Homo sapiens: one gene and its partners. The protein of the gene in region 1 binds, or shares a complex with, the protein of each later gene. Each region holds a gene or a part of one and is shown on either strand. Other genes may lie near its edges.

Region 1 (2,758 bases):
GATTGAGGGAAATAACATTGTACTCTGGGAGATAGGGCAGAAGCTCAGTATGTGGTGGATGAGAACTAGGGTAGGTAAATTTCCCTTTGAGCAATTAAATGTCTATAATTACTTCAACCTTGTGGGGATGAAGTATTGAACACTTACTGTACCTAAAGCAAACTGCTAGGTAATAAGGATTACAACAATTGCTAAGCCATGATTTGTATCCTTGAATTGCTTAAAATATAATGTGAGTTAAGATATTAAAAAAAAAGACTAATACAGTAATTATAAGTATTATAAGAATTGTGCAAACGAGCTAGAAGAACTGAAAGGAGGAAAAAATCATTTCTGAGTTAATCAGGGACACTTCAAAAGAGCTTTTCTGTTTTATCTGAATCTTAATAGATTGATAGATTAGATGTATGTCTTACTGACTTCTCTTCCTCTTTTTTTTCTTTTTCTTTTCTACAGTACTTTACCTCGTGTGGGCCTTTATTCCTGAATCTTGGCTAAACTCTTTAGGTTTAACCTATTGGCCTCAAAAGTAAGTTTAATATATTTCTTAAATGAGGATATAATTAATGCTGTTTTGAGGAGTCATATCATTTCTTAAACCTACCCAAATCTTAAATATTTGTTCTCTTAAAATTCATGAATAGCCATATAGAAATTGAAAGCTTTTTAAAGATCGCTATTGATACATCTCTAATTAAAGATGGTAGCATGAACACACATGTTTATCTCCATCCATTTCCTCCAAAAATCTTGTTAAAATGACCCTACAGGAAAAAAAAAAAAAACTGAAGATACAAACCACAGAAACAATAGTATAGCAGAAAAGAGATATCAACCACATTTTGGAAAGTGGATTGTGATAGGTGAGAGGTAACTGCCTTTGTTTCTGTGATTTTCACGTTGCTGAAGTAGGGAAGCCAGCAAGAATATTTGTGCCTTAGAACTCCAGAATAGCTCAGACATTGGGGTACCAGGTAGCTCTTTAATTCTGGGTTGAACTGAAAACATGTTTAAAGACCATATGAAGTCTTCAGCCTTCAAATCTCCCTCAGCCCTCAAAGCTGGGAGGCCTGCCCTGCCCTCCCCTGCAGAAAACAGGAGTTTTACTCTCTGGCAAGGTTAAGTAAGAGTCTCTAGCATGGGGGCCACTAAGTCTGAGTGTGGGAATGCGGCATCTTACTGAAAACAGGGAAGTAAGTGAAAATCTACATGGCTTAATGAGAAGATTTACCTCCTGCTCCATCTTCCCTCTTGGGGCTTCGAGGCTTATATCACCCTACTGCTCACAGAAAAAGATAGATAGTTCTTTCCTGAGGAAGCTGACCAGCCCGAGAGAAAGGATCTATAATTTCTGACATTTAGAGGACCCCAGTGAAGTGGCCAAGTCTCTCAGAGTGAGGCTCACCAGTTGACCATCCCTGCCCACATACACATAGTGCTTCCAACTCACTTGTTAGCACTTCATTTTTAAATATGAATGGACTACTCTAAGTTACCAGACATTAAAAGAAAGCCTCTAGCATGAAATGAAAAAGCAGAAAATTAAAGGGAATTTGAAGGAAATAGAGATAATGCAGGAAACAGAAAAAAAAATTTAAATAACATAAAATTCTCAGAGGTAAGAAACAATTATAACTATGAAACAAGAACAGAATGCTATGCAAACAGGAAATTACTGTATTTGGAAATTGTAAACATGATAACCAAAATTAAAATTTTAATTGAAAGACTGGAAAATAAAACAAAGGTAATCTCTAGAAGTTAGAACAAAAAAAAATGAAAATATAAGAAAGTATAATCGTTAAAAATTCAAACTATTAGAAGTTCCAGAAAGAGAAAATAATAGAGAACAAATCATTTAAAAAAAAAAAAACATCTGGCCAACATCTCAAGACCCCATTTCTACAAAAAAATTAAAAATTAGCCAGGTGTGGTGGTGTGTGCCTATAGTCCCAGCTACTTGCAGGGCTGAAGTGAGCTCAGCAGATTGAGGCTAGTGATCTGTGATCATGCCGTTGCACTCCAGCCTGGGTGACAGAGGGAAATGCTTTCTCAAAAAGAAAAAAAAAACACTCAATGAAAAATAGCACTCCATGTACATAATGATACTGAGAGGCATAATAGAGTCCTATCAGAGAATTTGAGGCTCTGGTATTGGTGGATTCCTGGGAAACCAAGTGAACAGACAAAAAGATGTAATTATTCCAGAAAAAAAAAAGTTGTACAAGAAAATATATAATAATAATGTACTAAGATCCTCAGTTGCAAAATTGTTTATGTAGGTACAATTATTTCTAAAACCTGCTGCTATAATGAGAAATTGCAATGTAAGTATAGAAGAGGATAGGAGGAGGTTAATTCCTTATCTCCATATTAGGAAGCCTAGAGAAAATGTCTGTAATGGAAAAAAATGAGGAAATAGTAATATGAGCATGTTTTGTAGCAATGAGGAGGTAAGTACCAGAAGACAGCTCAAGTGCTCAAAGCATTTCTTTTTGGAGAGTGAGACCCCAGGGTTGGGATGGTGGGATAGAGGACTGCAGTTTTTCACTGTAAGCCTTGTGGAACTATTTGTCTCTTATGTACACATATTACTTTATAAAATTTAAATTTAAAAAACATGTTGGCTTTGTGACCGACTCTTGAGAATTACAACTTTTTTAAAGTGTCTATTATGTACTTTAATATTCTCTTTGGCAGATATTGGGCAGTTGCATTACCTGTCTACCTCCTTATTGCTATAGTAATTGGCTACGTG
Region 2 (2,480 bases), on another chromosome or scaffold:
GCCTGGAAGTCCAGGTTGGATGGAGGCCTGTACACTTCGGGCTGGGAACGGGCTGTGGGGCCCGCCAGCTGGGCCCCCAGCACTGCAGGCGACAGAGACCATTCTTAGCAGCTGTGGCAGTCGCAGGCTGTACTGGGCCAGGACCCACGAGGGGCCCACCCCACATGGAGTCCACAGATTCAGAGCAGGAGCTGCTCGCCCCACCCCTGGAGGCCTACACCCCTGCACCATCTATGTCGAGGCAAGGCCACGACCCCAGGGTGGGCGGCCCCCAGGGTGGGCGGCCCGGGTTCACCTGCCTACACCAAAGTCCTCAAGGGCCCAGGGCCTGTGAGCCCGTCCCATCAGCCGTCGTCAGGGCCTCCAGCAGGAGGCCGGTGTAGACTCTGCAGGGCAGACCCACGTGAGGCAGCCCAAGTCCCTCGAGTAGCGTCCACACACCCCCCCCCCAGAGCTTCCCTGGACCCGCGCTGCACATGGACCCGGGACCGAGCCTGCGCTCCAGACACGGGGCAGGTTTTATTGTCACAGCAGCTGACGGCTTCCCCGGTGCTGGGTTGCCAGGGAGTCCCAGGCAGTCCTGGTGCTGCTGAGATGGGCGCTGCCTCCTCCCACCCACAGCGCGTCATCCCCTCACCAGCCGGCACCTGCAGGCTCCCCTCCTGAAGCGGACTCGGGCTCACAGGGAACACCCGCACCCAGACCGTGCCGTCTGGCAGGCACTTTCGGCCTCAGTGCCACGGCCCCCTCCCCAGGCCACTCACACTCCTGGGGGGCCACAGAGGTGTCTGCACAGCAGGGCTTCCTCCTTCCCTGGGAGGCCCATGAAGGGAGACAGATTTGGCCGCAGGACCTGCTGCTACGGGGCACCGTGGACGAATAGGTACGGCTGGGTCAGTGGGCGGGCCCTTGACACTGAGGCTGCTCCCGCCCCCACAGCAGCCTGGCGATGCTCACAGCCTGCTGATGGTTTCTTCACAAAGCGACCTCTCCAGGGAACATCCGCAAATAAACCCCGTGTGGTTCAGGGAGTGAGGGCCCGGGCCCGCTGGGGACGGGGGTCAGCGACTGCTTCAATCCCCCAGATGCAGGGTGCTGTTCGGCTGAGGGAGCTAGAGGGTGCCTGGGACTGGGGGGTTCATCCTGGCAAGGTCCCTCCACCCCCACAGCCAGGGCAGAGCCACTGGGGAGCCCCCAGGGAGACCAGCCCTCCACCTGGGGCTGCTGTGGTGGACGGACCCTCTGGACCTGGGTACACAGGGTGGGCATGGGGCAGTGCTCTGGACACCTGGGGTTGCTGTGCTCGCCACCATGGTGACCGCAGCAGGTGGGAAGCGGGTCCCAAGGCAGGCAGTGCCAGTGATGGAGTGCGGCCAGCCTGGCTGGCCACCCCCACATCTGCTCACTCCCAATGACCTCCAAGCCCAAGGTGTGATAGCAGGGCCTGCCGTGTTCAGGAGCACACAGCAGCGTCCACAAAGCACAGGACATGCGCCAGCTGAGCTGGTGCCACCCTGGCAGAGCAGATGGCTGGCTGTGGCCGTGTGGTGGTGCCAGGCGAGCCAGCAGTTCCCTCAGTCCTGCTTGTCCCCTCTCTGCCTCCAGGGGTAGATGAGCTCCCCAAGGAACAGCTTGCGGCACAGGGCGCCCCAGGAGTGCTTGGGGTGGCAGCCACAGCTGGGGAGGCGGTAGGTGTGCACCACGCGGCTGTAGGGCAGTGGGTTTATCTGGAAGGACAAGGGCAGCGGTCAGTGGGGTGGTCTGAGCTCCAACCCCGTCTGCAGAGAGAGGGTGGGGGCGGGCAGTTGTGAGGCAGGGCCAGTGCTGTCTCAGACATTCCCTTGCCTGTGGGAGAAGCCAGTCCCAGTTCCCAAGGAGGCAAGTGAGCCTGCAGCCAGAAGGGAGCGCTGGGGGGAGGCAGAAGCTGCATCTCCCCTCGGGGCTGCCCAACTCTGAGGGGCCGTGCCACAGGGACGCACACCCCACCCCAGGACTCACTCAGTCGGTTCTGTTCCACCCAGAACTTGAGCCCTGTGGGGCCCAGGGCAGCCCCAGCCAGCCAAGGGCGCCTCCGACACAGGGCAGAATGGGCCCCATCCACAGGACCACACCAGTGTCCTCAGGCCCTGGGGGTAAGGGGGAGGGGGTCCCGCGTGGGCCTTCCCCCTCAGCTCCACTGGGCCCTCCCTGTACCTCATCGCAGGCTGGCGTGGTGCCACCCAGACACTACACCCAGCTGACCCCACCGTCCCAGAACAGGGGCAGCAGCGTAGGGGCGTCCTGGCCACAAGGGGCCTCACCTGCATCAGGAGGCGGAGGGGCCTGCCGGCCTCGTGCCGGAGGACACGGAACTTCACGCCAGCTGCAAGGATAGCAAGCGGCTGACGAGGGGACGCGTGGGGGCTGGCCCCACACATGAGCAGAGGCTGCAGGTACCTTCCTCTCTGAGGGGCACCCGGGTGCTGCTGGCCGTGGCCACC
Region 3 (3,659 bases), on another chromosome or scaffold:
GCACTCTGAATTCCAAAGGGGAGAAATGCGGAGTCAAGGTGAGAATATAAGGGAGTGCAGTGGTGCTGCATCCACTTGCAAATTTTTTTTTTTTTTTTTTTTTGAGACAGAGTTTTGCTCTGTTGCCCAGGCTGGAGTGCAGTGGCGCAATCTCGGCTCACTGCAACCTCCGCCTCCCAGGTTCAAGTGATTCTCCTGCTTCAGCCTCCCGAGTAGCTGGGATTACAGGTGCTCGCCACCACGCCCAGTGGCACAATCTCGGCTCACTGAAACCTCTGCATCCCGGGTTCAAATGATTCTTGTGCCTCAGCCTCCCAAGTAGCTAGGACTACAGGCACGAACCACCATGCCCAACTAATTTTTGTATTTTTAGTAGAGACAGGGTTTCACCATGTTGGCCAGGCTGCTCTTGAACTCCTGGCCTTAAGTGATCTGCCCACCTCGGCTTCCCAAAGTGCTGGGATTACAGGCTTGAGCCATGGTGCCGGGACCACATGCAACTTCAATCTCTCACCCACATCAAGGGGTATAAATGACACAGCAGTGAGCTCATGGAGTTAAGAAGTTTAGGCCTCAGCACACCTTGCTGGAAAGAGTCCCAGCTAGGCTTACAGCACAGCTTGTGAACTATGCGAGGTGGGAGATCAAATGATAGCTTTTTAATCTGTCTAAATTTCATGAACTCCATCTCTAAGAATAAGCAAGAGGAAAAACAAAATGGACCCTTGAGAAATGTCACAAGTTGTAAAACAGCCCTCAAACACAAGAAGTGCAGTTTAATATGTAAATATTGAAAAATGTTTTACACAATGAAATGTAATAACCAAAATTAAAAGAAAAGCCACAGAATGGAAAAAATATATGTGAAAGTATATTTAATAAAAGTGCACTACCTAAAATATATAAAGAATTGTTAAAAATATATAAAAATAGATACAAATACATAATATTCAGATTCTACTTGACTAATAGAGAAGATAGGTAGTTTAAAGTAAGAGGAAATACTGATAGGTAATACAAGGAAATATGAAAAGCCTATCATTTAAAGAGATACAAATTTAATGCCTTTACCTACATATTAAGCTAAAAAAGCTAAATCCACTATTAGCCAGGATGGTAGAAAAAGAAGTACAAAATCCCCAAAGTATGATAAAGTTGTCCAATCTCTGGAGCCCGATCTTAAACACTAGAAATCTATAAAACTATTCATAAGCTTTAATAAAATAATTTTGAATTACAATGCAAAATAATTTTTGGCTTATCTTAAATCCTTTGTGAAAAAGGTCAGTGAGGCAGGGTTAACTGTATACATAAATACATGCATAAATACCTACCTCTAAATTTATTATTTTGTAATTTATTATGTTTGTATAATTTTTGTTTTTTGAGATGGGGTCTCTTGTCACCCAGGCTGAATACAGTGCCATGATCAAAGCTCACTGCAGCCTTGACCTCCTGGGCTCAAGCAATCCTCCCACCTCAGCTTCCCCAGTAGCTGGGACCACAGATGTGCACCACCATGCTCAGCTAATTTTGGTATTTTTTGTAGAGATGGGGGTTTTACCATGTTGCCCAGGCTGGTCTCGAACTCCTGAGCTCAAGTGATCTGCCTGCCTCAGCCTCCCCCACAGTGTTGGGATTACAGGCATGAGCCACTGCACCAGCTGATAAGTGTTTTTTTTTTTTTGTAAGAGCAAAACAAAAAAACCCAGGCATGATTTTAAAAGCTGGCAAGAGTGGCTAAATAAACTGATATTTCAATATATTATACAATTATTTAAAATAATAAATATAATGGCCTTTGTAGGATACATACATATTAAATTATTTACAAAGCAAGACACACAATAGTGTACAATGTAAGATCAATTACCTCTATCTAAAAAAAGTGTACAGTAGTAGACTGACAGAGTCAAAGTAGATGAATGGTGATTTATAGGCAGAAGTTGCTATATATTTGATTGTGTTCTTTAAAATGTGCATGAGGCCAGGTATGCTGGCTCATGCTTGTAATCCCAACACTTTGGGAGGCTGAGGCAGGAGAATTGCTTGAACTCAGGAGTTCAAGATCAGCCTAGGCAACATGGCAAGACCTCATCTCTACTAAAAATAAAAAAAAAAAATTAGCCAGGCGAGATGGTGCACACCTGTAGTCCCAAGTTCTCAGGAGGCTGAGGCAGGAGGATTTCTTGAGCCTGGGAGGTGGAGGCTGCAATGAGTGGTGATTGTCACTGCACTCCAGCCTAGGTGACAAAGTGAGACTCTGTCTCTAAAATAAAATAAAATGTGCATGAATATTTTTAAGGAATACATTTGCCTCAGAGAGGAACTTCTCAAATAACTGAAATCCTAATTATCACTCAAAACAGCTGTCAGGTATCTTCCAATACTCTGACAAAAGGAATTTACATTCCTAATGAAAAGGTTGAGGAGTAATTGGAGAATGGTAAAAGTATTCTATGCTCACCTGGAAGACGGGTACTACTTGGGATATCCCATGTGGTTCCACTGGATCTTTCAATAAGATGCAGAGGTAGTAAATCACCTTCTGCTGTAAGAAAATAAATCAAATAGCAAAGTCTAAGTGAAACTCATTTTGCATTCTTTTTTTCTTTTTCCTTTATTTATTTATTTTTGAGACAGAGTCTCTCTCTGTTGCCCAAGCTGCAGTGCAGTGGCGCAATCTCGGCTCACTGCAACCTCTACCTCCCAGGTTCAAGCGATTCTCCTGCCTCAGCCTCCCAAGTAGCTGGGATTACAGGCGCTCGCCACCATGCCCGGCTAATTTTTTGTATTTTTAGTAGAGATGGGGTTTCACCATGTTGGTCAGGCTGGTCTGGAACTCCCGACCTTAGGTGATCCGCCTGCCTTGGCCTCCCAAAGTGCTGGGATTACAGGCGTGAGCCACCACACCTGGCCACATTCTATTTTTCTAAGGGAAGGCTCAACACTTTTTCACAAATGTTTAAGTAGTAGAACACTTGATAGCTTTTGAAGTGGAAGAAAAGTATATTCTCATTCTTTAAATGAAAAAAGACAGGGCCAGGCGTAGTGGCTCAAACCTGTAAACTGAACACTTGGGGAGGCCACAGCAGGAGGATGGCTTGAGCCCAGGAATTCAAGACCAGCCTAGGCAACATAGTGAGACTGCATCTCTGCAAAACATAGAAAAAACGAGCCAAGCATGGTGGTGCATGCCTGTAGTCCCAGCTACTCAGGAGGCTGAGGTGGGAGAATGGCTTGAGCCTGGGAAGTTGAGGCTGCAGTGAGCTGTGATCGAGCCACTGCACTCCAGCCTGGGCAACAGAGTGAGACCCTGTCTCAAAAAAAAAAAAAGAAAAAAGATAGAAAGAGAAGGAAAAAATGCCAGTGATAATTTTGAAGTTGGTCTTGAAGATAAAGTTGAAATGCTAATTCCCTATCCATGAAAACCTGCTGCATCTCTTTAAAAATAAAGAGATTTACCTTTTAAATATAAGTCTCACTTTTACGGTTTTAGTTTAAATCTGGGAACATCCCATGGGCTGGCTACCTCCTCCAGAGAGGCCTGTAATACTTACCTTTTAAATACTTACCATGTAAATGGCCTCATTGATGACAATATCCTTGACCTTGCCCATTTCTATGAAGGTAGTGCTTTCTTTGCCTGAAGCATAAGA

The links.
Region 2: PIGP (region 1) and PIGQ share a complex: the UniProt entries of both Homo sapiens proteins name them as parts of the glycosylphosphatidylinositol-N-acetylglucosaminyltransferase (GPI-GnT) complex.
Region 3: PIGP (region 1) and PIGH share a complex: the UniProt entries of both Homo sapiens proteins name them as parts of the glycosylphosphatidylinositol-N-acetylglucosaminyltransferase (GPI-GnT) complex.

What each region holds. Positions count from the first base shown.
Region 1 is NC_000021.9:37,067,323-37,070,080, reverse strand, and holds part of PIGP (phosphatidylinositol N-acetylglucosaminyltransferase subunit P), read left to right. Parts: intron 1-456; coding exon 457-529; intron 530-2,700; coding exon 2,701-2,758. UniProt on the Homo sapiens protein: Part of the glycosylphosphatidylinositol-N-acetylglucosaminyltransferase (GPI-GnT) complex that catalyzes the transfer of N-acetylglucosamine from UDP-N-acetylglucosamine to phosphatidylinositol and participates in the first step of GPI biosynthesis.
Region 2 is NC_000016.10:582,130-584,609, reverse strand, and holds the end of PIGQ (phosphatidylinositol N-acetylglucosaminyltransferase subunit Q), read right to left. Parts: intron 2,363-2,480; coding exon 2,301-2,362; intron 1,728-2,300; coding exon 1,575-1,727; coding exon of another isoform or gene 976-1,574; 3' UTR 501-975; downstream 1-500. UniProt on the Homo sapiens protein: Part of the glycosylphosphatidylinositol-N-acetylglucosaminyltransferase (GPI-GnT) complex that catalyzes the transfer of N-acetylglucosamine from UDP-N-acetylglucosamine to phosphatidylinositol and participates in the first step of GPI biosynthesis.
Region 3 is NC_000014.9:67,590,168-67,593,826, forward strand, and holds part of PIGH (phosphatidylinositol N-acetylglucosaminyltransferase subunit H), read right to left. Parts: coding exon 3,576-3,659; intron 2,552-3,575; coding exon 2,468-2,551; intron 2,270-2,467; coding exon of another isoform or gene 2,148-2,269; intron 6-2,147; coding exon 1-5. UniProt on the Homo sapiens protein: Part of the glycosylphosphatidylinositol-N-acetylglucosaminyltransferase (GPI-GnT) complex that catalyzes the transfer of N-acetylglucosamine from UDP-N-acetylglucosamine to phosphatidylinositol and participates in the first step of GPI biosynthesis.